2 separate regions of the Homo sapiens genome follow, and region 2 is linked to region 1. Evidence: fine-mapped QTL for protein levels in blood plasma. Region 1 holds a variant in brackets. A gene starts in the other region. All regions are shown on their reverse strands.

Region 1 (15,650 bases):
TCTCCGTATTTTTAGGTAAATGCAGCAAAATCACACAGGTTGTCGTGGCAGGAAGTGGATTCTGCAAACCACACTAGGCCCGTTTATCTCTGTCCTAGAGTTGGTTAAAAGAGCAACTGAGGCCAGCTGTGAGGAGCATAGGCCCGGGTACTAGGACTCACTCATGCCAGATATAAGCCCTTAGACACATACATAGCCCCTCCATGTGTGGGTTCACTTTTACATCTGTACATGAAGAAACCACTGATTCCTAAATAACATAATTTATACACATAGGTAAAAATAATTAAAAATGTGATAGTTATTAAGTGTTTATCACACAACAATTTCACAATAAAACAGCATTTTCCCAAATGTAATCATTGTCATCGAAATCCCCAAGGACACTCTCATCTGCCCTGGGCCCTGCCCTCTCCTCAGGCATCTCACCCCAGAGCTTGCTATATAGTAGGAGACATGCAAATAGGTCCCTCCCTCTCCTGATGAAAACCAGCCCAGCCCTGACTCCGCAGCTCTGGGAGAGGAGCCCCCGCCCTGGGATTCCCAGGTGTTTTCATTTGGTGATCAGCACTGAACACAGAAGAGTCATGATGGAGTTTGGGCTGAGCTGGGTTTTCCTTGTTGCTATTTTTAAAGGTGATTCATGAGGAAATAGAGATATTGAGTGTGAGTGGACATGAGTGAGAGAAACAGTGGATTTGTGTGGCAGTTTCTGACCTTGGTGTCTCTGTGTTTGCAGGTGTCCAGTGTGAGGTGCAGCTGGTGGAGTCTGGGGAAGGCTTGGTCCAGCCTGGGGGGTCCCTGAGACTCTCCTGTGCAGCCTCTGGATTCACCTTCAGTAGCTATGCTATGCACTGGGTCCGCCAGGCTCCAGGGAAGGGACTGGAATATGTTTCAGCTATTAGTAGTAATGGGGGTAGCACATATTATGCAGACTCTGTGAAGGGCAGATTCACCATCTCCAGAGACAATTCCAAGAACACGCTGTATCTTCAAATGGGCAGCCTGAGAGCTGAGGACATGGCTGTGTATTACTGTGCGAGAGACACAGTGAGGAGAAGTTAATGTGGGACCATGCAGAAACCTCCCTGCGGGAACGCTGGGGAAAGTCATCTGCAGGGGGCGCTCAGGAGCCACTGATCAGAGTCAGCCCCAGCGGCAGGTGCAGATGAAGGCTGATTTCCTGTCACGATGTGGGACTTCATCTTCTTAAAGTTTCTCTACTGAACCTAAGTTCGGAATTCTGTGATTACTAGGGTCATTTCTACATATTTTTAAAATGATTGTTTTAATATGAAAACCTATTCTCCTATGCAGAAAATGCAGATTGATCCTCACAGAGGAGATGAAAAGTTCTCAACCATGGTCACCACTGTCAGAGTCCTGAGGAAGCTCAGGGCTTCCTGGTGAGTCTTCTCCAGTCAGACTGAGGACAGGAACTCCAGAAAGAATCCTGACTAGAACTGAGGTATTGCTCCTCACAAGAGAACTCAAGCTGCGGGGGGTCTGTTCCTGCAGACCCCTGACCCGGTGGCGGATGAATAAAACGTACACTGACACACAGATATTCTGTTTTGCCAGTTCAGCTGAGGGTCCGAGGCAACTTACAGACTCCAAGAAGAATCCTGTAAAGAACGGCAGCAGTGGCCCTGAGCAGCTCGCACTCCAGGCGTGTATTGAGTATAGAATTAACAACAGAAGCTCTGACAACACACTTGTGGATAATTAACATGGTTAAGAGAGTAGTTCTACGAATGATTAAAGCTCAGGGACTGCGGTCTAAAGTAAATACCATTAGGGGGCAATACCCTGGTTAGTTAATGGAGGTAGGGTAACCAGACTTAACTGGGGAGGCCTCTATTGTCCCTAGTATTTACCCTATGCCTAACGCTCTAAGGTAAGAACTGGCCGCCTTCAGCCTGTTCAATTATTACAAGCTATGTAACCTTTCGGCCTTCTAAAAAGGTATATGACTATTCCCTATAACTTTCCTTAATATTCCCCTTTAATATTTCCGCCACCATCCTGAGTGAATCCCAGCAAGAACAGTCTTTGGGGATTCTGATTACAGAAAAAAGAGAGGCTGGGCCAGGGTCAGTGTCATGTAGAACCTCACAGGTTTCTCGTAGGACCCTTCTCCTGACACTGAAGAATGCAAATCAGAATCAATACTGATCTGGAGCTTCTTTTCCTAATTCATTTACTGTCTTTTTTAGATGTTGTTCTCATTTTTCCATTTGCTTTTCCTGCTTTCCGAAAAAGGAAGATGTTTTTGCTGTGGTCAAAATTCCAGACCTCAAGCCCTTTTCTTGGCGCTCAGGTGGGTCTCAGGCTGTGGCTGCTGCAGTCACGCAGGAGAGTCTGGTGGGACTTTCTTCACTCTTCGTCACTCAGGACCCTCCACTGTGTTGCATGGAGACTCATCTGGAAATGCAAGTTGCCAGTGGGAACTGAAGGGACAAGCTTGTCTGGTTAATGTGGGATGTGGATGTGTTTCTAATCCTGTTCTGAAAAACCGTCACACAGTAACGTTCTTCACTAGTGGAGAAGGAAGTGGGTGTGAACGTTGTCAGAATAAAAATGGAGCCACGTGTGTTATAATCTTTACAGGCGAAGCTGGAAGAGGTCATGAATAGAGGGTTCTCATGCACACATCCCTGATAACAAGAATTACCCTAAAAATACTCTGCACAACCACAATCTTGAACAAAGGCTACCACAACAATAAGAGAATTAATACTGAGGGGATATCTGCCCTGCAACTCCCTGTTCAGCCTTAAACTGATTCTACCCTTGTTATTGATTCTTCTACCCCAGGATAATTGTCTCAAAATAGCTCAGGTAATCTTCTCATTTATCCTTCAGACACTTGTCTTTCTTTACCAACCTAAATGTGACCATGGATAATCCCATTGCAATGCTCATTTTCAAATAAATACGATTTGATTTTGGAGAATCTCTTTCTCTCTGATGTTTAGGTTTGACAAGCTGCAGAGGGACACACCACTTTCCTGTGAGATGTAGGGGATGACAGTTTTGGGGGATGGCTGGAAACGTGCAGTATCCTTAGGGTCAGCCATCAGTAAATGCAGGCTGGAAATCTTAGAAAGATCTCAAGCTGCTTAATCACCACGGAGTTTTACCTTCTCCAGATCTGTTCTGATGGAATCAGGGCCAAGTTTGTTATTGATGATAATCTACCTAATATTGAGTCAACTGATCACAGTTTTAATAACATCTATTTAAAAATTCACACCTGGATTAGTGTTTGATCAAATAACTACAAAGTATTGCCCAACCAAGCATACCATCAGGCAGACTGTTACCCACAGAGAAAAACATTGAACATGAGTTTGAGGTTCTCACATTGTTAAAGGTGTAAAACCGATTATGTTTAAATTATGCTATTTTTATTATTGTTATTGAGTTGTAGATGTTTCATTTACATTTTGGATATTAACGCTTTTTCAGATTCATGGCATATTATCCAATTCTGTGAGTTGGAATTATTTTGTTACTTTGCGGAATCTTTTTTTAAATCTAGTCCCACTTGTCCAATTCTGTGTTTTTTTATTTGTTTGAATGTAAAATCCAGAAAAAGATTGCTAATTTTTTGAGGGTTGGGAGTTTTACAATTGCACGTGTTTCATTTAAGTATTTAATGCATTTAGAATTAATTTTTTTGTTTATTCTAACCTAAAATTCTTAATTCTTTGCATGTAAATATCCAATTTTCATAACACGCTCTTTGGAAGACACTATAATTTAGCAATTATATATTGATGGTTCTCACGCTGAAAGTCAGCTGGCCATCAATATGTGGGTTTATATCTAAGCTCTCTGTATGAATTTATGCGAATGCCATTCTGATTTATTACTGTATGTTTCTAATAAATGTTGAGGCCTGGAAGTGTAATACCTCAAGCTTTATTCTTGCCTTGTTACAGATATTAGACCAAAATATTCTAAAATTTTACTATTGAGTATAATAATAGCTGTGGCTTTTCTTAATTGGTTTCATTATGTACAAGTTGTTTTCTTGTCTTCCTACTTTGTTCAGAGTTTTTATAATGAAATCCTGAATTTTTTTCAAGTGTTTTCTGTGTCTGATGAAATGTTACTGAGATATTTTTTCTTTAGTTTTTTAATTAATCAACTGAATTGATTGATTTGAGAATGTCAAATCATCTGTGCATCTCAGAATAAATTTGAGTTGATCATGGTGTATGGTCTTCTATAAAATCTTTAGAATTTATTTTACTATTGTTGGGGGGTTAATTTATGTCTACTAATGATATTGGTCTATGATTTTCTTTTATTGTGGTGCCTTTGTCTATTACTGGTAGTACTCTAACGGTAGCCTCATAGAAAGAGTTTGGAAGGTGTGTTGCAGACTACCTTTAAAATAGATTTTATCAGTGGAGAAACGGTGATAGTTTTTTTCTTCAGTTTTCTGTTGGGAAGAGTTTTGTTTGTTTGTTTGTTTTTTGTTTTTTTGTTTTGTTTTGTTTGTTTTTTGAGACAGAATCTCGCTCTGTTGCCCAGGCTGGAGTGCAGTGGCAGAATCTCGGCTCACTGCAAGCTCCGCCTCCTGGGTTCATGCCATTCTCCTGCCTCAGCCCCCAAGTAGCTGGGACTACAGGCGCCTGCCACCACGCCTGGCTAACTTTTTGTATTTTTAGTAGAGATGGGGTTTCACCGTGTTAGCCAGAATGGTCTCGATCTCCTGACCTCGTGATCCGCCCGCCTCGGCCTCCCAAGGGAAGAGTTTTATGTTGTTTAAAAGATATTCTGAATAACTTAACCTGCTTAATGGGCTTACATAATATTCCTTTCTTCCATTCTTTTTAAAGAACTGCTTACCTTTCCTAATTATTTTTAGGGTGATTTTTTTCATAAAGATTGTGCAATACATTTTGAGGTGAGACTTAGTGGATTTTTTCTAATGAATTAGAAATAATAAATCACTTAATTGACTATTGTATTAAGGTTGATTTGTTGAATATTTGCTAAAGGCCAGTTCTTTAAGCTGTGCCATGTACTAAATCCCTAACCGACTATTTTATTCAGGTTGGTTTGTTGAATATTTGTTAGAGACCAGTTCTTTACACTATGGCATGTAATAAATTCCAAATGGCAGTACGTCATTGTTTACTTAGCTTTTGTGCTTATATTTTTCAGAGGAAAAAAAATACTGTAAATTGTAAATACCCAATACCTAACAGTATTGTATGCAAATCTGTGACTGTTGGCAGTGTCATCTCTGAGAAACAGATAAAGTTTATTTACTATATATAAAAAAAGAGTTTGGAAGGTGGACTCCTCACCAATTTTTGAAAGAGTTAGAGAAGCATTAGCATTAATTCTTTAAATGTTAAGACTAATTTTATGATGTAACATATAACCTATCATGGAGAATGTTCAATGGGTGCTTGAGAAGGATGTGTATTACATGGCTCTTGGTTGGAAGGTTCTGTAAATGTCTTTCAGGTAAATTTGTTCAATACTGTTGTTCAAGTTCAGAGGCTTATTAAGAATTTTCTTTCTGGATTTGCTATACATTATTCTAAGTGAGGTATTAAGGTTTTCCCTTATTTTTATATAGTTTTCTATTTCTCTCTATATATATATCTTAAAGTTTGCTTAATGCATTTATATTTGTATTTGTACTGTGTAAAAAGTAAAATAAAATAATAATTGCTTAGTGAGTTTCATGGCACAATCACGTTATGAATAATCATATTTTCCCAAATGCTGTCATTGCCACTAACTCCTCCAGATACATGGTATATTATCCAATTCTGTGAGTTGGAATTATTTCGTTGCTTTGCAGAATCTTTTTTTGTTAATCTAGTTCCACTTGTTCAATTATGCTCCTCCGGGAGTCTCACATCTGCTCTGGGCACTGCCTTCTTCTCAGGCATCCCACACTGGAGCTTGCTATAGAGGAGGAGGCATGAAAACAGGGCCCTCCCTCTACTGGTGAAAACAAGCCCAGACCTGGCCCTGCAGCTCTGGGAGAAGAGCCACAGCACTGGGATTCCCAGGGGTTTCCATGTGGTAATCAGGGCTGAACACAGAGCTCACTATGGGGTTTGAGCTAACCAGAATTTTTCTTGTTGCTATTTTAAAAGGTGACTCATAGAGAAATAGAGTGAGTGAGAGTGAGTGGATATAAGTGAGAAAAACAGTAGATGTGTTTGGCAGTTTCTGACCAGGACGTTTGTGTATTTTCAGGTGTTCAGTGTGAGGTGGAGCTGATAGAGTCCATAGAGGGCCTGAGACAACTTGGGAAGTTCCTGAGACTCTCCTGTGTAGCCTCTGGATTCACCTTCAGTAGCTACTGAATGAGCTGGGTCAATGAGACTCTAGGGAAGGGGCTGGAGGGAGTAATAGATGTAAAATATGATGGAAGTCAGATATACCATGCAGACTCTGTGAAGGGCAGATTCACCATCTCCAAAGACAATGCTAAGAACTCACCGTATCTGCAAACGAACAGTCTGAGAGCTGAGGACATGACCATGCATGGCTGTACATAAGGTTCCAAGTGAGGAAACATCGGTGTGAGTCCAGACACAAAATTTCCTGCAGAAAGAAGAAAGGATTCTGGGCCGAAGGGGACACTCAGCACTCACAAAACAGGTGGAGCCCCAGGGCAGGTACAGAAAAGCAGTCAAGGGCTGCTGTCCTTCAGGATCTGTGCTTTCCTCTGCATGTAGCAGTTCCCCTCGAATCCTCTGCACTTTTATGTTTCTGTGCCCACCATGAGGTCCCTGGATTACAAAACTTTAATTTAAAAGAGGAAACATTCTTATATGTCCCAAAAACAAAAGTAAGTATTAGAGGCACAAAAGTGCACAGGCGGCCAGGTGAGGCTGTAGACACTGCCACCCCGCAATGCCAGTCTCACAACTAGCACTGGAGAGTAGTGGGCATTCAGTGGAGCTTCCTACCTATCCTGTGGTCCGAGCTAAGTCCAGCAAGGCCATTGGTGCCTTCCAGAGCACAGTAGTCCATCAGGAATCTCCCATGTGTCCCAGCAGCAGCCTTGCCTCAGTATCTCCACTGTGCACAGCCATTGTCTGGGAGGAGCTCCCAGGATGAGTGTCTTTGGCACACACCAGGTGGCGGGTGTTAGAGTGCAGTACAGCAGCTGGCTGCCTGGTCTATTGGGCTCCCTGATGTTGGAGGGATTTGAGGTGCATTCTCAGGCCCAGCACCCTCTTTGTGAATTTTTATATAAAAACCCTGATTTTACTTCATTTTCTCAGATGACATAGATAACTAAAAACAGAATCTGCAAAGAAATTGTAATTTTCAACTTTACCCCAAATTCATTGTTTCTTAATTCTGTGCAAGATCCAAACATATTTTTGCCTTCCACATGAGAAATTGTTCTGTTTAAACTGAAATCATTTTTTCTCATATTCTTTCTTTTTGCCCAAGTACAGAGATCTTGTTGAAAATAAGTTGGGTTCTTTCCACACACTAACCCTCACCTCCCCTAGAGAAAGAGCAGAGATTGTCCTCACTCTGAGTCTAGGGGAGGAGCTGTTCCTGTA[C/T]AATTCAGAGCCTGCAGAGACCCCCAGGTGCAGCTTCAGTGAGTCAGACATTTCTCCATGTGGGCGACCTCCAGTGCCTGTGACTGCTTCTCAGGCCTAATTGTGGGTTAAGAATTAGGACACTCTTTAAGTTATCACATCTGAATCCTATTCTGAAAATCACCATAAAGAGAGATAGTTCAATGGCTATTCTCCTGACATAAGTTTCTCTTTATTACTTGGTTCCAAGTATGGAGAAACATGTGACCCTATATTTGTCTGAATCCAACATCAGAATCCACTGCATTACTCTGGGATACTCACGGATCGAACACAGGTGAGCTCTTTATTCTCACAGAAATGTATGTAGTTGGGAATTTCAACATATTGTCCAGAACGTGTGCCTGCCAACAACTGTGTTTCTCGGTGCACTCTTGGCCTGGTGAAGCCCTCACAGACCCTCTCCCTCATGTGTGTCATCTCTGCATTCTCCATCACAACCAGTGCTTCCTCCTGGAGCTGCATCCATCAGCCCCTCTCTGGGAGGGAATGGAGTGGATTGGGTGCATAGGTCATGAAGGGAGCACACATTACTCCCCTTTCCTCAAGAGTCCAGTCACCATCCCCAGATCCATGTCCAAAAACAGTTCTTCCTACAGCTGAGCTACATGAGCAACAATCACATAGCCATATATTTTTAAGCAAAAGACACAGTGAGGGAATCACAGTGTGAACTCACACCAAAACCTCCCTGTGGGGATGCATAGGACAGAAGGGGTTACTCCGGAGCCCAGGGGGCTCTCAGGACACCAAGGGGCACTCAAGACCATTGTAGAGGCACGCAGGTAGCCGGGGGCTCTCAGGAACCATGGAGGAAAATCAGGACACCAAAGGGTGCTCGGTACAGCGAGGGGCTCAGGACAATTGTGGGGATTCAGAAAGAACAGGTTCAAGGCTCAGCTTCAGGGCAGGTGCAGCTGGTGTGAAAAGGGGCTGGATGAGGCGTTTTGTGTCACCATCATGTTTCACCACCAGACACCCTCCACTACATCTGTTCTAATGCATGTGTTTGTATGATTAGAAAATGATATTGATATAAATATATAACCATAGCTAGGTGTGTCTTTTTCTGCCTTCCGTCCTCCCTTCTTCTCTCTCTCTCACACAGAAATTTACATACACCCACCCCACAACACACATAAATCTATAACTTTTATTACCTGATGTATTCAATAAACCTGATTAATGTGTTTTGCAGCTTCATTGTTTATGCTGTTGTAGCAATAAAAACCATCTGTTTCCCAGCTGTGTACTTCTCTAAGCTGAGTAGCATCTTTGTTCATAATACCCAGAATGAAAAACAACCCAAATGTCAATCATCAGCTTAACTGGTAAACACATTGTGGAAAAGTCATTCATTGACATACTACCCACTACTACCATCAGCTAATGTTGGCTATGCTCAAAAGCATGGTTAAATTCACAAGTACTTCAGATGAGTAAAATGAGCCCAAGTGATAAAAGTGCATACATAGGATACAACTTTCATAAGTTCTATAGAACAAAAAGTAATCTAAAGTTGCAAAAAAAAAATCAGTAGTTCACTGTGAATATTGTAGGAGAAGGGATGGTCTAGGAAGGAGGAATTATGGAACAAGATAAAATGTTGAGGGAATTGACTTGTTATCTATGTTGATAGTGATAATGTCTATGACAATATTTGCAAAATTGAACACTTCATGTGGAGATTATTGTTTTTAGTTTAGCCCCATTAAAGATAGTATTAATTAGAACAGGTATAAATTGGTATCAAAGGAATTAAAGATAAATAAAATACATGAAAAGTCAGAGAATCCTGAATATACACATGAATGAGCACTGGACATCTCTGTATTTTTAGAGAAGCACTAGAATACAGCAAAATAATGGCATAATTTTACATCACTAAGAAAGTTTATCAAACCCACCAGGCATGTTGTATTAGTTCATTTTCACACTGGTATAAAAAACTACTTGAGACTGGGTAGTTTACAAGGAAAAGAGGTATAGTTGGCTCACAGTTCTGCATGGCTGGGGAGGCCACAGGAAACTTACAATCATGGTGGAAGGTGAAGAGGAAGCAAGGCACGTCTCACAGCCCAGCAGGAGAGAGATAGAGGAGGGGAAGTGACACATACTTTTAAACCATCAGCGGTTGTTAGAACTCACTCACTATCATGAGAACAACATGGGGAAACTGCCCCCATGATCCAATCACCTCTCACCTGGTCCCTCCCTTGACATGTGGGGATTAGAATTTGAGATGATATTTAGGTGGGGCACAAAACCAATCTATATCACATGTCCAGTTCTGTCCTGGAGTTGTTTCAGGGATCCAGTGTGTCCTGTTGATAGAAACAGTGACACCAAGTTCATATTATCAGTTGTAGTTGACACCATGCAAAGCCAAGAGATCTCAAGTGAGATTTAGTGTGTATGTTGTGTCTAATGAAGTCACACACTCAGAGCAAGTGAATAGGGAAAAGTTCATTATCTACACTGTAGAGGTGTCTGCTGAGTGCAGGGCAGGTCTCCCAGGAAAATCTAAAATGGCTTGAAAGAAAACCAAAGGAGACTGGCTCAGGGTTTTTATAATGGTTTAGTGGTGGGGGCAAAGTGAAGCTTCCCACTCACAGATGGGGGTTTATAGGGTTTGAAACTCCCACTGGCATCAAATGAAGAAGCTCCTGTGAGTCTGAACTAGATTCATCTTGTGTGGCAAAAAAGGAGACGATGGAGGAGTGAGCCTTAAGTAATCAGCAGTCATGCACCAAAAGATAGAGTGACAACTTATTCCATGCAGCAGGAATAAAAATAATGAATAAGAAAGAAGACAAGGGTTCAGTATGGGTGGACAACACCCAGATCTGCAGAAATGAGATGACTTTAGAAATGTAAGCAAAGAATAATGAGAAAAATAAGAAGTGGATGGAAAATTAAACAGGGGCCTGGTCTAATGTCTTGGGTAGAAGCTTTTCACAATCAAGGACTATCAGCTTATTCTGCAGGTCTTAGGTCAGCCATCTGCTTAAAAACATCAGAAACGCCAGAGGGTCTATGAGGATGCTCAGTTTAACATCTCCTATTTGAGTAGCTTTACAGTTGTGTGGAATTCTTAATTGATTATTTTTTGTTTGTTTTTAGGGACAGGCTCTCACACTGTTCCACAGCTTAAAGTACAGTTGTGTGATCATAGCTCACCTTAAATTTGAGCTCCTGACTCACACAACCTTTCCATCTTAGCTTTCTGAGTATCTACAACTAGATGGGCACACCACCCCTACCCTCCTTATTTTTTAAACATTTTTTCATAGAAATAGCATCTCTTTATGTTGCTCAGGTTGGCTTCGATTGCCTGGTCTCATAGGATTTCCCTCACTTTGCTTCTGGAAGTGGTGTGATTATAGGGAAGATCCACTGCATCTGACCTGAATTTATTCTTTAGTTGTAAAATATGAAGCCAATAATTAACTGCCTGAATGTTTTCTGCAGTGAGTTAGTTAAAAGCATCTGATAAGGTTCCTTCCTATGTGATTCACGAGCAGTATTTTCCGCTGATGTTCCTTCCAGTTTCCTTGCTGAAGATCACAGGGAATTGTGGAAAATATGTAGTAAAAAGGCAGCCTTAAACTCTTCATTGTTAGAGTGGATATCACACAGGAATCACTTTCAGTATTTTGTAACACATGCATGCAATAGAGCAAACATGATCTCTGGGGGTAAAGTCTATAAACGTATGGGCCTTTTAGCTACCAAGTCATAGGGTAATAACTGATGTACCCTGAGGACTGGACCATGATTCCATAGTGCTAGTGGAAGAACCCTTGACCAAGGGAGTTTTACATTTTATTAAAATATGTAGAGATGCCACTTTTTAAACATTCCCAGAAGGTTGTGAGTGGGATTGACTCTGTCTCGTATGAACAAAGACAATGCCCTCCATGATTAGATAATATTATAAACTAGATTGAGCTACAGTGTTTGCTGTATTGAATCACTGTATATTTTATTTTTTAGCTCCATGTTAGTTTTTTGTCTGCGTGTTAGCGTTGGCTTTAAAATGATATTAATCAGCTCTGTAGTAAGTAGAAATTCATCTGAGAGTTTCTTTCCTTGTTTTCCAGTTTGATAGGATTTCCAGAATACATAAGAACCCTCTCTGTTTGTAAAAATATTCCAGGCCAGGCCAGTGGCTCATGCCTGTAAACCCAGCACTTTGGGAGGCCGAGGTGGGGGGGATCATTTCAGGTCAGGAGTTTGAGACCAGCCTGGCCAACATGGTGAAACCTCCTTTCTACTAAAAATACAAAAATTAGCCGGGCATGGTGGTGCTTGAGGATTGCTTGAACCCTGGAGGCTGATGTTGCAGTGAGCCGAAATTGTGCCACTGCACTCCAGCCTGAGAGACACAGCGAGAGTCCATCTCAAAATAAAAGAAAACAAAACATTCCAAAGTTATGCACAATCTAGAAACATATGTACTTAATTCTCATTTTTAATTTATTAAAAAGCTCTAATAAGTTCAATGTTTTCTGCCTTCTCAGTTGATTTCACAACACATATAATAATATATCCTAAATAAAAGTTTGTTCTCTTAATACAAATTACTAGTTAATAACCCTTACTTTATTATTGAGGTATTATCCATCAGTGTTCATCAATGCTCTCAATGGGACTCTTACATAGAGAATATACAAAATATTTTCCTGATCATGACATAAAACAGATGTGAACACATTCTTAGTATTCAGCCATGTCTCCTATCATGTTATAAACCACATGCTAACTTTGACTTTATTGGAACTTGTTCTAATTTCAAACTAGTTATTTTTTATCTTCATGCAGCTGGATTATTATGTGTGGTTATTTATTCCGAGAGTGATAAAGACAACATTAACAATTTTCACTGCAGGCATGTCTAGGCAACCCCCTGTGCACAATGACCTTGGTGCATTGGAGATTCTATGGGGACTCTTCCCTACCTGCCTAGGAGAGTTCTCTGCCTTCTACCTCTATCATTTTCCTCTTTGAAGAAATACATCTAACTGTCGTTAGAATAGAGACAAAGACAAATCTTAACTGCTTCCAGCTGACGGGGGATGCTGTTTGGGGAAGATCTCTCTTGGAGGCCTGTCTAAGGGACCCCAGGAAAAGGGAGCCATTATCCCAGGCTTCAGTTGCATGAGCATTTGGAGTTTGATGGTCTGAAAACGAGAAAAGGCAAATCAGATTATTAGAAGACATGTATCCAAACCTAACAAGGTGGTCAAGGTGGTAAGGACAGTTTGAAAGAAAATTCCAAGGCTGCTGACATGCCCAGATAACTGCGGCTGTAGTTATGCCTGCTAAGGTTTGGGCGCATGAGGCTTGGCTTTTGTCAGCTCCCTGGGATTTATTTTCCCAAACAAAGAAACCTCCAGGTTAGGGGCACCCTATTCATTCCCATCACCTGGCATGATTTAAAGGATAATTGCTTAGAATTAAAATATTGATACAGATTTTTTTATATTCCCCATCGCTTTTTGTTTCTTCTGGGCTGTAGCCAGAGATCATTGATTGGCGCTCAGGAATAAGCAGTCAGTCTAAAATGCAGGCAAATACTTAAACAACTGAAGAGATTAGAATTTAAAGATGATCGTATGATATGTTTTGAAATACAATTTTTCTCTTTCCAGTTCTGGTTTTTGTCAGAATCAAGTAATTGTAAGACTGAGTTGTTTGCAAAATAAACTTTAGTCTTAAACTTGGCCTGATTATTTGCATAAAGTGCAGCAAGAATATTAATAATAATTCTGTAGGAAAAGCCTGCAAGCACCAGGAGTTTCACAGTCTAACACTATGAGCACGTGCATCCTCACGCAACTCGCTGAATATTTCCAAGCCAGCCTGTTCCTATCTTAAATGCCATCCAGTTGTATCTGCCCCAGGTACACTAATATATGGGTCCTGCTTCTCTGCAGCCTCCTCTCTCCTCAGATTTCAGGTTTTGTTTATTGTTTGTTTTCTCTCTGATATAAACTCAAATATGTTGAAGGTTTTTTTGTGTGTGGTTGTTCAGGTTTGTTGTTAATGAGGTCAGAATAAGATAATACTTTACTCTTTTTATTTATTTATTTATTTATTTTTTGAGACGGAGTCTCGCTCTGTCACCCAGGCTGGAGTGCAGTGGCCCTATCTCAGCTCACTGCAAGCTCCGCCTCCCGGGTTCACGCCATTCTCCTGCCTCAGCCTCCAGAGTAGCTGGGACTACAGGCGCCCGCCACCATGGCCGGCTAATTTTTTGTAGTTTTAGTAGAGACGGGGTTTCACCGTGTTAGCCAGGATGGTCTCGATCTCCTGACCTTGTGATCCGCCCGCCTCGGCCTCCCAAAGTGCTGGGATTACAGGCGTGAGCCCCCGCGCCCGGCCCATACTTTGCTCCGTTTTATATTCCCATGCTTTAGTAGCTGCTTTTCTCTATCAAATCCATTAACTGAGAGAACAAATCACATTTAGTTACAGGTGAACAATTAAATAGTTTGGCATATATTTATGTACTGGAACATAACGCAGCTTGAAATCAAGGCATGCCTCACTCATATAAACAACATGGCTAAATTCTCAAGTAATTCTGTTTAGTGAAAGAAACTAAGGAGTTAAGAGTAAATTTTATATGATACATTTGTAGGAATTTTAGAAGATGCCATTATTGTAAATTAACACGGAGAAGATTTGAGTTTGTCTGACAATACGCTGTTGGGAGTAATGTGGATGTGAGTTGAATTTCAGAGAAATAAAAGAAAGATTTAGGGATTAATTTAATTATTCAAAACTTGATTGAAGTGCTGAGCAAATGGCTGCAAACATAGGTCAACATTTTTCAAATCCTTCACTATAAATTTGAATTAATTACTTATTAATTACACTTGAATAAAGCAATAACGAAGAAACCAATAAAATAACATTTGACTAAAATGGAGCAATAAACAGATCGATGTTAACACAAGGAATATGACTGACTTATGAAAACATGCACATGAACCATGGTTCACTCTACGTATTTTGGTAAATTACAGAAAGTTGTCATAACAGATGGGGAATCCTGCAGACTTCACTAGGCATGGTCCACGCTGCCCTGGAGTTGTCTCAGGGGAGCTGCCTCCTCCAGTGGTTAGAGCACAGGCCCAGGTAATAGGACTAATTTTTTTAGATGTGTAATTTTAGACACACTGCACAACTGCTGTGTTCTCTGTGTAAATTATCTCCTGTAAAATGTAACATTGAAACCTGCATTAAACATATTGTATAAATATGTAAGAATAAAATAAGATTATGAGAGCTAAATATTAATCAAGGCACAAGCACATAATATAAAATTATATTTTCCTGAATGATACAATTATTCCAATCTGTCCCAGGACACTTCATCTGCCCTGAGCCCAGCCTCTCCTCAGATGTCCCACCACAGAGCTTGCTATATAGTGGGGGACATGCGAATAGGGCCCTCCCTCTGCTGATGAAAACCAGCCCAGCTGACCCTGCAGCTCTGGGAGAGGAGCCCAGCACTGGAAGTCGGCGGTGTTTCCATTCCGTGATCAGCACTGAACACAGAGGACTCACCATGGAGTTTGGGCTGAGCTGGGTTTTCCTTGTTGCTATTTTAAGAGGTGATTCATAGATAAATAGAGATGTTGAGTGGGAGTGGACATGAGTGAGAGAAACAGTGGATGTGTGTGGCAGTTTCTGACCTTGGTGTCTTTGTGTTTGCAGGTGTCCAGTGTGAGGTGCAGCTGGTGGAGTCTGGGGAAGGCTTGGTCCAGCCTGGGGGGTCCCTGAGACTCTCCTGTGCAGCCTCTGGATTCACCTTCAGTAGCTCTGCTATGCACTGGGTCCGCCAGGCTCCAAGAAAGGGTTTGTAGTGGGTCTCAGTTATTAGTACAAGTGGTGATACCGTACTCTACACAGACTCTGTGAAGGGCCGATTCACCATCTCCAGAGACAATGCCCAGAATTCACTGTATCTGCAAATGAACAGCCTGAGAGCCGACGACATGGCTGTGTATTACTGTGTGAAAGACGCAGTGAGAA
Region 2 (15,650 bases), not on the chromosome of region 1:
TCATGTTGCTATTTCTTTTCTTTCTTTTCTTCTTCTTCTTCTTCTTTTTTTTTTTTTTTTGTTTTGTTTTGAGACGGAGTCTCGCTGTCGCCCAGGCTGGAGTGCAGTGGCGCGATCTCAGTTCACTGCAGGCTCCGCCCCCCGGGGTTCACGCCATTCTCCGGCCTCAGCCTCCCGAGTAGCTGGGACTACAGGCGCCCGCCACCTTGCCCGGCTAATTTTTTGTATTTTTAGTAGAGACGGGGTTTCACTGTGTTAGCCAGGATGGTCTTGATCTCCTGACCTCGTGATCCGCCCGCCTCGGCCTCCCAATGTGCTGGGATTACAGGCGTGAGCCACCGCGCCCGGCCTCTTTTTTTCTCTTTCTTTCTTTTTTTTTTTTAGATGGAGTCTTGCTTTGTCGCCCAGGCTGGAGTGCAGTGGTGTGATCTCGGCTCACTGCAACCTCCGCCTCCTTGGGTTCAGGCTATTCTCCTGACCTCAAGTGATCCACCCGCCTCGGCCTCCCAAAGTGCCAGGATTACAGGCATGAGCCAGCGGCCCAGCCATTACGTTGTTGTTTCTTTGTTTTTTTTTTTTCTTTTTTCTTTTTTTTTTTTTTTTTTTGAGAGGAAGTTTCACTCTTGTTGCCCAGGCTGGAGTGCAATGGCGCTATCTCACTGCAACCTCCGCCTCCTGGGTGCAAGCAATTCTCCTGCCTCAGCCTCCCAAGTAGCTGGAATTACAGGCATGTGCCACCATGCCTGGCTAATTTTGTATTTTTAGTAGAGACGGGGTTTTTCCATGTTGGTCAGGCTGGTATCAAATTCCCAGCCTCAGGTGATCTGCCCACCTTGGGCTCCCAAAGTGTTGGGATTACAGGCGTGAGCCACGGCGCCCAGCCTACATTGTTATTTCTAAGAACCATTTGTTTTTCCTTTCCCATGAACTGTCTGTTGCTATCTTTTTTTTTTTTTTTTTTTTTTTTTTGAGACGGAGTCTTGCTCTGTCGCCCAGGCTGGAGTGCAGTGGCACGATCTCGGCTCACAAAGCTCCGCCTCCCGGGTTCACGCCATTCTCTTGCCTCAGCCTCCCGAGTAGCTGGGACTACAGGCACCTGCCACCACACCTGGCTAATTTTTTTGTATTTTTAGTGGAGACGGGGTTTCACCGTGTTAGCCAGGATGGTCTTCATGTCTTGACTTCGTGATCCGCCTGCCTCGGCCTCCCAAAGTGCTGGGATTACAGGCGTGAGCCACAGCGCCCAGCCTGTTGCTATCTTTTAATCATTTTTCATTGGGTTGTTAATCATTCTGCTATTCAAAGTAATTCCTTACATGTCATGAAATTTGTGAAATCATCCTCTCTGAGATGCAAATTTTTTCCAGTTTATCATTTGTCTTTGTATTTCCTCTTATCACATTTTTTATTTTCCTGAGTCAATGAATTGATCTTTTCCTTTAAGGATTCCGAATTTTGTGTTATAGTTAAAAGAGTCTTCTCCACTTCAGAGTGATACAAACATTCTTGCAGGAATTCTTCTGGTACTTTTATGGTTTCCCGTTATTATTATTTTTTTTTTTACTTTGACACAGGGTTTCACTGTTGCCCAGGCTGGAGTGCAGTGGTGAGATCATAGCTCATTACAAGCTGACAGGGTGGCTCATGCCTGTAATTCCAACACTTTGGGAGGCTGAGGTGGGTGGATCACTTGAGGTCAGGAGTTGGAGACCAGCCTGGCCAACAGAGTGAAACCCCATCTCTGCTGAAAATGCAAAAATAAGCCAGGTGTAGTGGTGTGCGCCTGTAATCCCAGCTACTTGGGCTGCCGAGGCACGAGGAATTGCTTGAACCCAGGAGGTGGAGGTTGCAGTGAGTTGAGATCGTGCCACTGCACTGCAGTCTGGGCGACAGAGCGAGACTCTGTCTCAAAATAATAATAGTAATAATAATAGTTCTCTGCAGCCTCGAACTCCTGGGCTCAAGCAATCCTCCCACCTTGGCCTCCCACAGTGCTGGGATTATAGACATGGGTGACCATGCCTGGCCAGTTTCCTTTCTTTTTTCTTTTTCTTTTCTTTTTTTTTTTTTTTTTTGAGACGGAGTTTCGCTCTTGTTGCCCTGGCTAGAGTGCAATGGCACGATTTTGGCTCACTGCAACCTCTGCCTCCCAGGTTCAAGTGATTCTCCTGCCTCAGCCTCCTGAGTAGCTGGGATTACAGGCGTGCGCCACCATGCCCAGCTAATTTTGTATTTTTAGTAGAGACGGGGTTTCTCCATGTTTCTCAGGCTGGTCTCTCAAGTCCCAATCTCAGGTGATCTGCCCGCCCTGGCCTCTCAAAGTGCTGGGATTACAGGTGGGAGCCACAGTGCCCAGCCCAGTTTCCTTTCTTCTATTTAAATATTTGATCAATTTGGTATGTTCCCTGGTATGTAATATGAAGTACACATTTAATTCCCCCTGCCCCAGAAGCTACCTTGTTGTCTCAAAGTATTTATAAAATGAAATCTATCTTTTCCTCACCAATTTGAAATACCACTTTTTTTTTTTTCTTTTTTCTGAGATGGAGTCTCTGTTGCCCACAGTGGAGTGCATTGTGGCGATCTCTGCTCACTGCAAGCTCCGCCTCCCGGGTTCACGCCATTCTCCTGACTCAGCCTCCTGAGTAGCTGGGACTACAGCCACCCGCCACCACGCCTGGCTAAGTTTTTGGATTTTTTAGTAGAGACGTTGTTTCACTGTGTTCGCCAGGATGGTCTTGATCTCCTGACCTCGTGATCCGCCTGCCTTGGCCTCCCAAAGTGCTGGGATTACAGGGCGTGAGCCACCGCGCCCGGCCCGTTTTTTTGAGACGGATTCTTGCGCTGTTGCCAGGCCCAGGCTGGAGTTGCAGTGGTATGATATTGGCTCAGTGCAACCTCCGCCTCCCGCGTTCAAGCGATTATCCTGCCTCAACCTCCTGAGTAGCTGGGACTACAGGTGGGCACCATCACGCCCAGCTACTTTTTGTATTTTTAGTAGAGATGGGGTTTCACCATGTTTGCCAGGATGGTCTCTATCTCTTGACCTTGTGATCCCCTGGCATTGGCCTCCCAAAGAACTCGGATTACAGGTGTGAGCTACCGGCCCGGCCTTTTTTTTTTCTTTAGAGACAGAGTCTTGCTCTGTTGGCCAGGCTGCAGTGCAGTGGTGTGATCTCGGCTCACTGCAACCTCCACTTCCTGGGTTCAAGCGATTCTCGTGCCTCAGCCTCCCCAGTAGCTGGGATTACAGGCGCCTGCCACCATGCCCAGCTAATTTTTCTATTTTTAGTAACGATGGGATCTCACCATGTTGGCCGGGCTGATCTCAAACTCCTGACCTCAAGTGATCCGCCCACCTTGGCCTCCCAAAGTGCTGGGATTACAGGCGTGAGTCACTGCACCCAGCCTTGAAATACCACTTTTACTGAGTATTAAATTCATACATGTGTTTGTGTCTATCTGGAAATATCTCTTCCATTGATTGTGGAACTAATCAGGCACTAGCATCTAACTATTTTAATTGGTAATGCTTTACCAATAGTATGTTTGCTATTTGGTCAGGAGTTTTCAGAAAGTTCTTGGTTATTTTTCTTATTAATTTTTCCATAAGACTTTAGACATGGCTCATAGAGATCCAAAACAAAATCCTGTTTGTTATTTTTCTTGGGATCTCATTCAATGTCTTTTTAAATTTTAATGTATTTTTTGAGTCAGGGTCTCACTCCAAGCCTGGAGTGCAGTGGTGCAATCACAGCTCACTGCAGCCTCAACCTCCTGGGCTCACGCGATTCTCCCACTTCAGCCTCCCAAGTAGCTGGGGCCACAGGCACATGCCACCACACCCGGCTAATTATTTTTGTACTTTTTTTGTAGAGTTGGGATTTTGCCACGTTGGCCAGGCTGTCCTTCAATGTCTTGATCAACTGATATCTTAATGATCTGGATGGAACCTTCCTAGCCAATACCATAACCTGTATTTCTCTTTGTTCAAGTCTTTTTCTGTATTCTTTTGCAGAATTAAACATTTTTTCTTCACACAGATTGTGCATATTTCTTGTAAAGTTTATTTCTAGGTATTTTTATTTTTCCACTGCTTTGTAAATGGGATCTTCCATTATATCTTTTTTCTCTTGTTTTTTCTTTTTTTTTTTTTTTTGAGATGGAGTCTCGCTCTGTTTCCCAGGCTGCAGTGCAGTGACTCGATCTCAGCTCACTGCAAGCTCTGCCTCCTGGGTTCACGCCATTCTCCTGCCTCAGCCTCCCGAGTAGCTGGGACTACAGGTGCCTGCCACCACGCCCAGCTAATTTTTTGTATTTTTAGTAGAGATGGGGTTTCACCATGTTAGCCAGGATGGTCTCGATCTCCTGACCTCATGATCTGCCCTCCTCGGCCTCCCAAAGTGCTGGGATTACAGGCGTGAACCACCGTGCCCAGCCTCATTTTGTTTTTTGAGATGGAGTCTCGCTCTCTTGCCTAGGCTGGAATACAGTGGCGTGATCTCAGCTCACTGAAACCTCTGCCTCCCAGGTTCAAGTGATTCTCCTGCCTCACATGCCCGAGTACCTGGGACTAAAGTTGCATACCACCACGGCTGGCTAATTTCTGTATGTTTAGTAGCGATGGGGTTTCACCATGTTGGCCAGGCTGGTCTCGAACTCCTGACCTCAAGAGATCCGCCTGCCTTGGCCTCCCAAAGTGCTGGGATTACAGGTGTAAGCCACTGCGCCCGGCCCCATTATATTTTTATGTCTTCTAATTGTTGCTCTTAGATTCTGATATATCCCTAGGAGTGCAGGCTACCTCAAATAAGCTTGGGAATTACTTATTTAGGCCAGCAAGTAGTTCTCAACCTTGTTCTCCTGTGCTACACATACCACAGGTGACCCTGACATACACCAATCAACCCTACAGGTGTTCCCTGTTTCTTAGGGACTTGCGCAGAGATAAGCAAGGCTGTAATTTTTCAGCAGTCTACGGAAATTTATCATGTACTATTGTGTCCCTGGCACTGTGTTATGGGCCAGGGACCATCATGACTACTAAGACAGGCTGAGTCTCTGCTGTCATGGAAGTTGATCACTTAGTTCTAGCCTAATAGATATACTCAACAGATAATTGAAAATTATAAGGGTGCAAAGTTCTACTAAGAGGCTATGAGAGTGGAACAGATAATTCATCAGAGGTTAACATTCACACTTGTAATCCCAGCACCTTGGGAGGCCGAGGCGGGTGGATCACCTGAGGCCAGGAGTTCGAGACCAGCCTGGCCAACATGGCGAAACCCCGTCTGTACTAAAAACACAAAAATTACAGGGCATGGTGGCAAGCGCCTGTAGTCTCAGCTACTCGGGAGGCTGAGGCAGGAGAATTGCTTGAGCCCGGGAGGTGGAGGTTGCAGTGAGCCGAGATCGCGCCACTGCACTTTAGCCTGGGTGACTGAGGGAGACTCTGTCTCAAAAAAAAAAAATAATTAAAAATAAAAATAAATGTCTCACAGGGCTTTTATGAGCTTTGCATCAGAGAGCCGAGATCACACCATTGCACTTCAGCTTGGGCAACAGAGTGAGATTCTGTCTCAAAAAAAAAAAAAAAAAATTCAGCATCTCACAGGGCTTTTATGAGTTTTGCATGTTCCCATTCCTTAGTACAGATGCACATAATTTATCTTGTGAGAAGGAACACACATAATTTATCGTAACATACTTAATGCTCACAGTTTCTTGTGAACCAAGAACACACAGCTTCCATCTTTTTCTCAAGGTAAAGAAAAATGATTCCTTAATTACTTAGCAAGACTCAAGAGGTCTTCAGGACCTTGGAAGAGAACTTGACTGATAGTTTCTAGGTACAAACAGAAGAAAACAAATCTAGGTGACCTACTCCTGGTCAGGTATGGTGGCCCACACCTGGAATAATCCCCCCAGTACTTTGGAAGATTGAGGCAAGAGGATTGCTTGAGCCTAGAATTTGAGACCAGCCTGGTCAACTTAGTAACTTAGTAAGACCCTGGGCAACTTAGTAAAACCCTGTCTCTATAAAAAATTAAAAAATTAGCTGGGAGTGGTGGCACATGCCTGTGGTCCCAGCTACTCAGGAGGCTGAGGTAGGAGGATTTCTTGAGCTCAGGAGGTTGAGGCTGCAGTTAGCTGTGCTCATGCCACTGCACTCTAGTTAGGTGACAGAGCGAGACCCTGTCTCAAGAAAAAAACAAAAAAGATGCGGAAGGAGGAAAGAGGGAAGAAAATTGAGACTGGAAGTCATAGACCCACCACTTTTGTCCCTATGGGTGATAGCAAAATCACCTTTGACGAGATTGTCTGATTGTGCGCAGCTTTGGGTTTAGGGAGACCTCTCTGCATCTGCTCCTTTACCCAAGGAGGTATGGGATCCACACTGCTTGGAAGTTAGAAAGAAAAGATCACTTTTAGCAGAGGGCTGGACAATATCTGAATGTTGCTTACTACTGTCTTGGATGGGCACTAAAGGGACGGTGAAAGTCCTTTGACTATTTTTGGTGTTCTGAAATTCAGTGTCATTGCACTTCACAAGAAGCAATGTAAGGAGGCAAGTGTCCTCCCAGGCTTCGCTAAGGCTCCAAAGCCTTGTTTGGAGGGGCCTCTTCAGACACAGCAGCTCGTATTTTGAATTTATATTCCGTTGGCAAGAGAGATTGAGCAATTATTAGATTGAGAGACATTTAAGAAAGAGAGAATTATTTTTAAATAGTGGGGCGGCAGTCCCAGAGTGAGCGGGAGAGAGAAGCTCTGTGCACCTGCAGTTCCTTCATTCATTCTCAGTTTCTTGGACCTCTCACAACGCGAGCATAATTTTCGCTGAGTGTGCAGAAGTTCAAGATTCTTTTTTTTTTTTTTTTTTTTTTTGAGACAGAGTCTCACTCTGTTGCCCAGGTTGGAGTGCAATGGCGTGATCTCGGCTCACTGCAACCTCCGTCTCCCGGGTTCAAGAGATTCTCCTGCCTCAGCCTCCCAAGTAGCTGTGATTACAGGCGCCCACCACTGCATCCGGCTAGTAGAGACGGGGTTTCACCATGTTAGTCAGGCTGGTCTCGAACTCCTGACCTCAGGTGATCCGCCCACCTCGGCCTCCCAAAGTGCCGGGATTACAGGCGTGAGCCACTGCGCCTGGCCAAGATTCTTTACTGGCCACCCTCTCTCCAACCTCCCATACAATACAGCTGCTAAAAACCACTTAGTTTATCTAGGTCTGGGTGAAATAAATAGTAATCTGGCACTTCTCGTCTTTTTTTTTTTTTTTTTTTTTTTTTTTTTTTTTTTTTTTGAGACCAGTGTCTCTTTGTCGCCAAGGCTGGAGTGCAGCGGCGCGATCTCAGCTCACTGCAATCTCCGCCTCCCGGGTTCAAGCGATTCTCCTGCCTCAGCCTCCCGAGTAGCTGTTTACCTACAGGCGCCCGCCACCACGCCCGGCTAATTTTTTGTATTTTCAGTAGAGACGGGGGTTTCACCGTGGTAGCCAGGATGGTCTCGATCTCTTGACCTAGTGATCCGCCCGCCTCGGCCTCCCAAAGTGCCGGGATTAGAGGCCTGAGCCAACGCGCCCGGGCCATTGTCTTTTATCTCACTACACATTTTTCAATTTTATTTATTGTGTATTTTACTTACACAAGAATGTAAGCTCCACGAGGGCAGGGATTTTTGTCAGTTCACCACTACATTCTTAGCTCTTGGAGCAATGCCTTGCATATGGCAAGCATTTAATGAACATTTACAGATGGAGGAAGAAACAACTGCAGGAAGGAGAGAAAGGAAGGCCAGAGGCAGGACAAGAGGAAGAAGCGACAGCAAGGAAGGAAAAAGGAAGTGGAGGAGGAAAGAAGGTAGGCTGGGTTCTCCCAGACCCGCTTCGAGTCCAGCAGGCAGCGCGAAACTCCCACCAGAACTACAACTCCCGGCAGGCCCCGGGACTCAGGACGGGCCGCTGCGGTCCAGGCGGGACAGGGCGCTCCTCCCGCTGGGCCCCCGGCGTGCCTTGCGAGCGCAGGCTCCGCCGCAGTGCCAGCCGGAACTTGTGGTTCGGACCGTGGGTGGGGGTGGGGCCGGGGCCGGGCCTGGAGGCGGGCGGGGGCCGGGGGCGGGCGCCTGCCCCTCCCCCGTCACTTCCTGCCGGGCTGCGGGCGCCTGAGCGGCTCTTCAGCGTTTGCGCCGGCGGCTGCCGCGTCTCTCTCGGCTCCCGCTTCCTTTGACCGCCTCCCCCCCCCGGCCCGGCGGCGCCCGCCTCCTCCACGGCCACTCCGCCTCTTCCCTCCCTTCGTCCCTTCTTCCTCTCCCTTTTTTCCTTCTTCCTTCCCCTCCTCGCCGCCACCGCCCAGGACCGCCGGCCGGGGGACGAGCTCGGAGCAGCAGCCAGGTGAGGCGGCCGGGCCGGGCCGGGCCTGGTGGGGCCCTCGCGGGCGCCGCCGCGGTGGGGAGGTGGGCGGCGGGTGGGGCCTAGGCCTCGGCGGGCCCGCGCACCCCTCCGCCTTCTCCCGGGCCTCTCTCTAGCCCGCGGGGCCTTCCCGGAGGAGGCGGGTCCTCTTGCGTTCCCTCGCCTCGGGGCGCCCTGAGGCCTGGCCCCGGGCGCCCCCATCCCCTCCAGCCCTCACCGGTGCCACAAACAGGTGCTGCGGCCGCCTTTCCTCGTCCCGCATGGCGCGCGCGGGGATGCCGAAGTTATTCCCGGGGCTGGGGCGCAGGCGGGGGGGGGGGGGGGTCCCTGCTTCAGGTCCCCGAGGGCTGGAGCCTCTCAGTGTCGCCGGCCCAGGTCTGTAGCTTAGTGGTTAAGAGCACGGCCCAGGTGTCCAAAACGGGTGCCGAACCCGGCTCTGCCCCGTTAGGCAAGACACTTAAAAAGTCTTTGTGTCTTGGTTGGAAAAGGGGCTGCTAATACCGTCCCTGCCTCTTAAGGTTCAGTGAAATGGGGCGTGTAAAGCGCTTATCAGAGTGCCAGACCCACAGCGTGTCCCAGTAAACCGTCTGCATAATTTATTAGCGTGATATGAAGGTATAATTTAATGGGCAGAGTGGATAGAAGTTGACCTACCTATCCGTTTGGGTTTCTTAGAGGCTGCAGTGTTCCGCGTGCCCATGTCCAGAGCCAGGGCATTGTTTTCAGTTGTTAACATCTGAAAGGGGCGTACGCTTAATTGGGACACTGTAGTTGACAGTCTGTAAACGATGGATGCTGTTTCTTTCCATCTCCGCTTAGGCAACTGCAGGATATTCACCATCTCCCGCAGGATGAGCAACCTGTCCATTTCTCCCCGCCCCGCCATCATCCAGCTTCTTCTTGTCATTCCATTTCTGGGAAAGTTGCTGGCAGAAGCTTCCCTTGAGTTGAGCAAACCTATCTAGAGCACTTGCTGTGTGTTGGGCTCTGAAGGGGGGTGTACGGAGATGGAAAAATTTGTCTGTCTTGTCTTGCTCTACACCTCGATAAGTTTTTTTTCACGGAAGCTTTGCTTATATTCACCCCTCCCTGTTGGCTGACTTTCCTTTTAAGCCCTTGCCCCGCCTCCGTGTTGCAGTATTGCTTGTGTGGAAGTTTTCTTCTGTTCCGCGAAGATACGTGCTTCAGTCTGTTCTGCCACTGTTCTTCGGCTGTGTGGAAGTTTTTAAGGTCACACTTCTCTTCTGCTTGTAGCTTTCATTGTTAAGAGCGTGGTGGAGTTAAATCAGGTTCCCGGTTGATTTTGGCGTTTCAGGAATCCGTGCTTACCAAGTGTAAATTGCATTGCTACTTGTTGAGGTAAAAACTAAAAATACAGTTGGAGTGTAGAGGGAGCAGTTTCGGTTATCCTGGTGACAGGTGGGATTTTTAGAACAGCAACTTTACTAAAACATACTGGGTTTTTAAAAATTCTGTACTTAGTTTTATAGGTGTACTCTAAGGAAATGCAACTTATGGGTGTTCAATTTTATATGAGTAAGGAGTGTGTGTTTACCTGAGTGATCCTCCTGTATCTTAGGATTGTTTTAGGCATTAAATTTCCTTAGTGAACTGAAACTATTTTGATTTATACCCATCTCTTAACACACATGCGGCAAAGTGGCCTCCTTGTTTTTGACATTTTCCTAGAATTTTCTGACAGTCTTACCATTGTTTGTAATTTAAAATGTTTGTTTGAATTTTTTTTTTTTTTTGAGACAGTCTCACGCTGTCGCCCAGGCTGGAGTGCAGTGGCGCGATTTCGGCTCATTTCAACCTCTGCCACCCTGGTTCAAAAGATTCTCCCGTCTCAGCCTCCCGAGTAGCTGGGATTACAGACGCCCGCCACCGCGCCGTGTTAATTTTTGTAGTTTTCGTAGAGACGGGGTTTTGCCATGTTGGCCAGACTGGTCTCGAACTCCTAACCTCGTGATCCACCCTCCTAGGCCTCCATAAGCAGGTTAGGCGCGGTGGCTCACGCCTGTAATCCCAGAACTTTTGGGAGGCCGAGGCGGGTGGATCACGAGGTCAGGAGATGGAGACTATCTCTTGAGCCTGGTGTGGTGGCGGGCGCCTGCAGTCCCAGCTACTCCCGAGGCTGAGACAGGAGAATCGCTTGAACCCGGGAGGTGGAGGTTGCCTGGGCGACAGAGAGAGACTCTCTCCAAAAAAACAAAACAAAAAAAACACATAAGCAAACAACTATACAAGCAGTATAAAGCATGTCTAATACTGCCATATCACAATGGCATATTTCAATAGGGAAATGGTATTTTAAATACCATTTTTTAAAAACCTTTTATTCTGGAAAACATGCGAAACTCGAATAGTATGGAGAACCCCATGTGTTAGTCACTCACTTAGCTTTGACAATTATTAACTCATAGCCAAGGTCGGTTTTGTTTCATGTTGTATCCCCCCACACAAACTAGATTATTTTGAAACAAATCTTAAACATTGTGTCACAACATTAGCGATTTTGACTTTTACCAGATTGCCCCAGATTAAGGTCACAAAATTTACTTTTAGTAGAATAATAGTTCTCATTTTTGTTTGTTGGGCTTCCCTTCTCTGTTTATACATGATTTCTGTACAGCAGAAAAGAAGAAGAAAATTAACTCTTGATCCAATGCCTTCAGCTCCTCAAAATCAAAATACAACCTTGCTGCTTTATTGTGTACAAAAGCAAAAATTCTTGAGCTATTAATGACTATAATTGAAAAGCGAACAAATACAGATTTCCCCAGTCCTGTTTTGGCAGAGACCTGCCTTTTAACCCACTTTAATAGAGATAACTTTGTGTCAAAGTTAAACTACAGTTAATAATTCATAATGAAAACTTAAAATGTTTCTTTACAGTAGTTGTGTAAAGATACTGCTGTTACCTTAGGTTAAGAATTAAGCAAAAGATAATCTTCTAACATAGAATTGTTTTCCAAAGTGCCCCCGTCTGCCCTATTTCCAAATAACAAATTTAGCAAATATGAATGAAACCTTAATTTTTGTGAATAGTATGAAATCACAGCATAAGTGTTCACGTTTTTCTTTCTTGTGTCTAAAGGATCTCTCTTACAATGGAAGTTGACAGGAATATTATAAATATTATAAATGTCTTTGTTGCATAACTTTCAAATTTCTGGTCGTGAATAGTTTTCAGCTTTTAGGTCTGTTATTTGAGTTTTGTAGGTGTACTTTGAGCTTGATCAGGTACAGTGGAAATGTTACATGTTATGTTTTAGTTATGACTACCTGGAAGATGGGGAAAGATACACCTCTTAAAATTGATTTAGGAAAGAAACGCCAATTTAGTATCTGGGAAAGGACACAACACATTTTTAAAAATGTGTAGTGCTTCCCATTAAGCTTAACGTAAAACTTTTAAGCATTGAGAATTGTTACCATAAATATAGTTTCTTGAGAATAAGTTGCTCTCTTTTAGGTTTCAGCCAGAAAGTCCATGTATATACAGATTACAGCAGGTCCTTGAATAATGTTGTTTCAAGATAATGTTGAGAAAAAAAACTGTCTGTGGAGTTTACACGTTCTCCCTATCCCTGCATGGGTTTTCTCTGGGTACTCTTGATTTCCTCCCACATCCCAAAGCTGTGCACGTGAGGTTCACTGGTGTGTGGAGCTGTGTGTGTAAGTGTGAGTGCTTTCTGCAGTGGATGTCCTGTCCAGGACTGGTTCCGGCCTTGCACCCTAAGCTGCTGAGATAGGCTCCAGCCACCCCAACCCTGAACTGGAATAAGTGGTAAAAAAAAAAATTTTTTTTTTTGAGATGGAGTTTAGCTCTTGTCACCCAGGCTGCAGTGCAATGGTGCAGTCTCGGCTTACTGCAACCCCATGCCTGTAATCCCAGCACTTTTGGAGGCTGAGGTGGGCAGATCACCTGAGGTCAGGAGTTGGAGACCAGCCTGGCCAGCATGGCGAAACCCTGTCTCTACTAAAAATAAAAAAAATTAGCCGGGCTGGGTGGCGGGCACCTGTAATCCCAGCTACTCAGGAGGCTGAGGCAGGAGAGTTGCTTGAACCTGGGAAGCAGAGGTTGCAGTGAGCGGTTATCGTGCCATTGCACTCCAGCCGGGGCAACAAGAGCAAAAGTACTTCTCAAAAAAAAAAAAAAGGCATGTATACTTCACATTTATTTCAGTGTTTAATATTCGAAGTGTTTGGTCTTTATTTAAAAGTTTGGTGATATTTTTCTGATGAGAAATATGCCCTAGAACCTAACTCTTGTTTGTATCAATAAGCGTGTGTTAGTCGGAAGTCTCAGTTTCCAAGAACCTACCCCTTATGTTAAGAGAGGATTTACTGTATTTTAAGTTTAGAAATGGCCATGACTCATGGAACTCTCCTCCATCCCCATTCTAAAGTCCAGATCATTGATATCATTCTGGGTGTTATCAAAATGGATACTGCTTCATCCAGTCTCTCTCCCCAATACCACAAGGTAGTCTCAGTTTGTGGGGCAACTTTCTTTGAGCCTTTTTACTGGATTGAGTAAGAGTGTAATTCAGTATAAAGATGAAACTTTCATGAAAAGGGTATCTTTTTGTGGGATTCCACAAGTCAATCCCAGAGTTTGTCGCCCAGGCTGGTCTTGAACTCCTGAGCTCAAGTCATCTTCCCACCTCAGCCTCCTTAGTAGCTGGGATTATAGGCAGAGGCCTTGTTTTCATGAGCCTCTAAATTGGATCTTCTTATTTGATGTGATACCCAGTGACACAGAATTGTTCAATTTGAGGAAATATAAATTCCTCCCCTCTCAAATAAGAGCTTTGGAGTTGCTTTTCTCTCAGAATGGGATTTTAGAGCTTTCAAAAATGTTTAGAGAATTTTATGACAGATTTGTTTCACACTAGACCTATAACAGGTTATTTTACATTGACTTCTGGTGATGGAGACATTTGTGGTTGAAATGCTTCTCGTGTAATTTTCTACATGAGCTTTTCTTTAAATAAAACTTCACCAGAGTCAAGGCTGTATACCATTTGTGCTGTTCCAAAAAATATAAATTGCCAGTTATCAGTTGAACTATGAGAGGACATGTTAGTTGCTATGGTTATTTACCCCCACCATTTTATTATGAAAAATTTCAAACATATAACAAAGTTTATGAAGTTTTATTGTACATCTCTTTAGATACCATCTACTTTCTATTTTTGCCTCCCTGTTTCATGGTGCTGAACACCGTCTACTATTTTTTTTTTTTTTTTTGAGACGGAGTCTGGCTCTGTTACCCAGGCTGGAGTGCAGTGGTGTGATCTCGGCTCACTGCAAGCTCCACCTCCTGGGTTCATGCCATTCTCCTGCCTCAGCCTCTCGAGTAGCTGGGACTACAGGTGCCCGCCACCATGCCTGGCTAATTTTTTTGTGTTTTTAGTAGAGATGGGGTTTCACCGTGTTAGCTAGAATGGTCTCGATCTCCTGACCTTGTGATCCGCCCACCTCGGCCTCCCGAAGTGCTGGGATTACAGGCGTGAGCCACTGTGCCCGGCATACCTTCTGCTCTTTGTCATGAACATTTTACCATACAGTATTATGAAGCTTGAATAATGTTGGCCAAATCCATTGTTCTCACCTGCTAAGGAGATAATAGGATTATAAATATATAGCTGTGTTGATCTTATCAAATGCCACGGGATGGATGGGCTTGGATATCTGTCTTGTTGACAGCTTAATGCTCTGAACTAGAAAACCTTACTGCAGAGAAAAGTAATATTTTTAAAGTGGTAAAATGGGAATTACTGCAAATAGCTTAATTTGTTTTTTAAGTGTTTACATTCCCATACTGGTGAATAAGGTTGATGTAACAGTGATTTATGTCACCAGATAAATGGAAGTAGAGAAAAATTTCTGCAGGCTGTTAATTGCTGTATATTTTCTGGGATTACATATGTTTATTTGTTAAAGAAGTAGACTCAGGGAACTCCCTCAAAGTATATTTACTGGAAGCAAAAGTGGAAAAATCTATTTGAGAAAGTGTTTGCTTTCGATTAAAAATTAGTCTTCTGAATATCAAATCTGTAACCCATCTGGCATCTGTTTAATCTGGAATCTAATTTGGGAAAGAAGTGTGATGACTATGTGGGTTTATAACAGTAATGGAAGCAAAACTGGCCATTTTATTATGATAGAAATTTTGTGTCATGTCTCCCAGACAATAAAGGCTAAGAAAATCTATTTAAATACATTGGGGTCTTTTCCCCTGAATGAACATGATTGCTGAGGGTTAAACCTTCATTAGATTGCCTCTGCTTTTTTTTTTTTTTTTTTTTTTTTTTTTTTTGTTGAGATAGTCTTGCTCTGTTGCCCAGGCTGGAATGCAGAGGTATCATCTCGGCTCACTGCAACCTCCACCTCCTGGGTTCAAGCAATTCTCCTGCCTTAGCCTCCCGAGTAGCTGAGACTACAATTGAGCACCACCACGCCCGGCTAATTTTTTGTATTTTTAGCAGAGATGGGGTTTTGCCATGTTGCCTAGGCTGGTCTCGAACTCCTGAGCTCAGGCAATCCGCCTGCCTTAGCCTCGCAAAGTGATAGGATTACAGGCTTGAGCCACTGTTCCCGGCCTTGCCCCTATACTTGATGTAGCTACAGAACTGGTTGCTCAGTGAGTGGGTTGGTTTTAGTCAGCATATTCTCTGATCCTATTTAAAATTTTTTACAAGTGGAGTGTTGCTGTAAGTTTTATAGATGTTTATGTGTAAGGACAGGTTTAGTGAATTTGCTGGATAATAATATTTACTGCTATTGAGCTCTTACCATGTGCCAGGTTAGAATTACAGGGTGAAAGTTATTTTATGCAGAAAAGGAATTAAAAGGTCAGGTTGAATTTACCTAATAATATAAAAGTTGCAGTTCATTTAGCTCTTTCCTTGAACCAAAGAAAAGGGTTTCTTAGACCCTTTATGTTGTATTTCTAATACTCATAAACATCTTTGCAGCGTAAAGCTCATAATAATTGCTGAGGATGCTGATGCGCTTCCGAGGGGCCAGATAACTGGCTCAGAGTCCTGAGGCACCAAGTATTAGTTCTAGAGCACAGGCTGGTCTGGCTCCAAAGTCAGTGTTCTTTCCACTGAACCATGCTTTGTCTCTAAATTATGCTTAGGTGCTTTTTGTTTAGGATAATTGATTCTGCTTGTCACTGGTGGCCCTCCCCTGACTCTCCCCACCGCAGCAGCTAGGATGAATTTTG

Alleles and levels. Alleles are on the strand shown, and positions count from the first base shown. The strength of an association depends on the size of the effect and on how common the allele is.
For the plasma level of the protein whose gene starts at base 8,171 in region 2, T is the high allele of the variant in region 1 and C is the other (strong association).

The links. PIP is the chance, under the fine-mapping model, that this variant and not a neighbour inherited with it causes the effect. Protein levels are from antibody-based Olink assays in UK Biobank. Linkage for the fine-mapping came from a reference panel and not from the study's own genotypes, which makes the PIPs less certain.
Region 2: it holds the start of STAU1, and the variant in region 1 is fine-mapped to the plasma level of the STAU1 protein (UK Biobank, PIP above 0.99).

What each region holds. Positions count from the first base shown.
Region 1 is chr14:106,643,119-106,658,768 of GRCh38, reverse strand. It overlaps LOC102724977 (a long non-coding RNA gene), which reads right to left and starts at 874. Exons shown (of 2, transcript XR_001751026.1): 1 at 834-874. It also overlaps IGH, the pseudogene IGHV3-62, the pseudogene IGHVII-62-1, the pseudogene IGHV3-63, the pseudogene GOLGA4P3 and IGHV3-64. The variant C/T (reference allele first, on the strand shown) is at 7,566.
Region 2 is chr20:49,180,855-49,196,504 of GRCh38, reverse strand. STAU1 (staufen double-stranded RNA binding protein 1) reads left to right here and starts at 8,171. Exons shown (of 14, transcript NM_017453.4): 1 at 8,171-8,389. RefSeq lists silencers at 7,898-8,567, 8,798-8,957 and enhancers at 9,358-9,427, 15,514-15,650.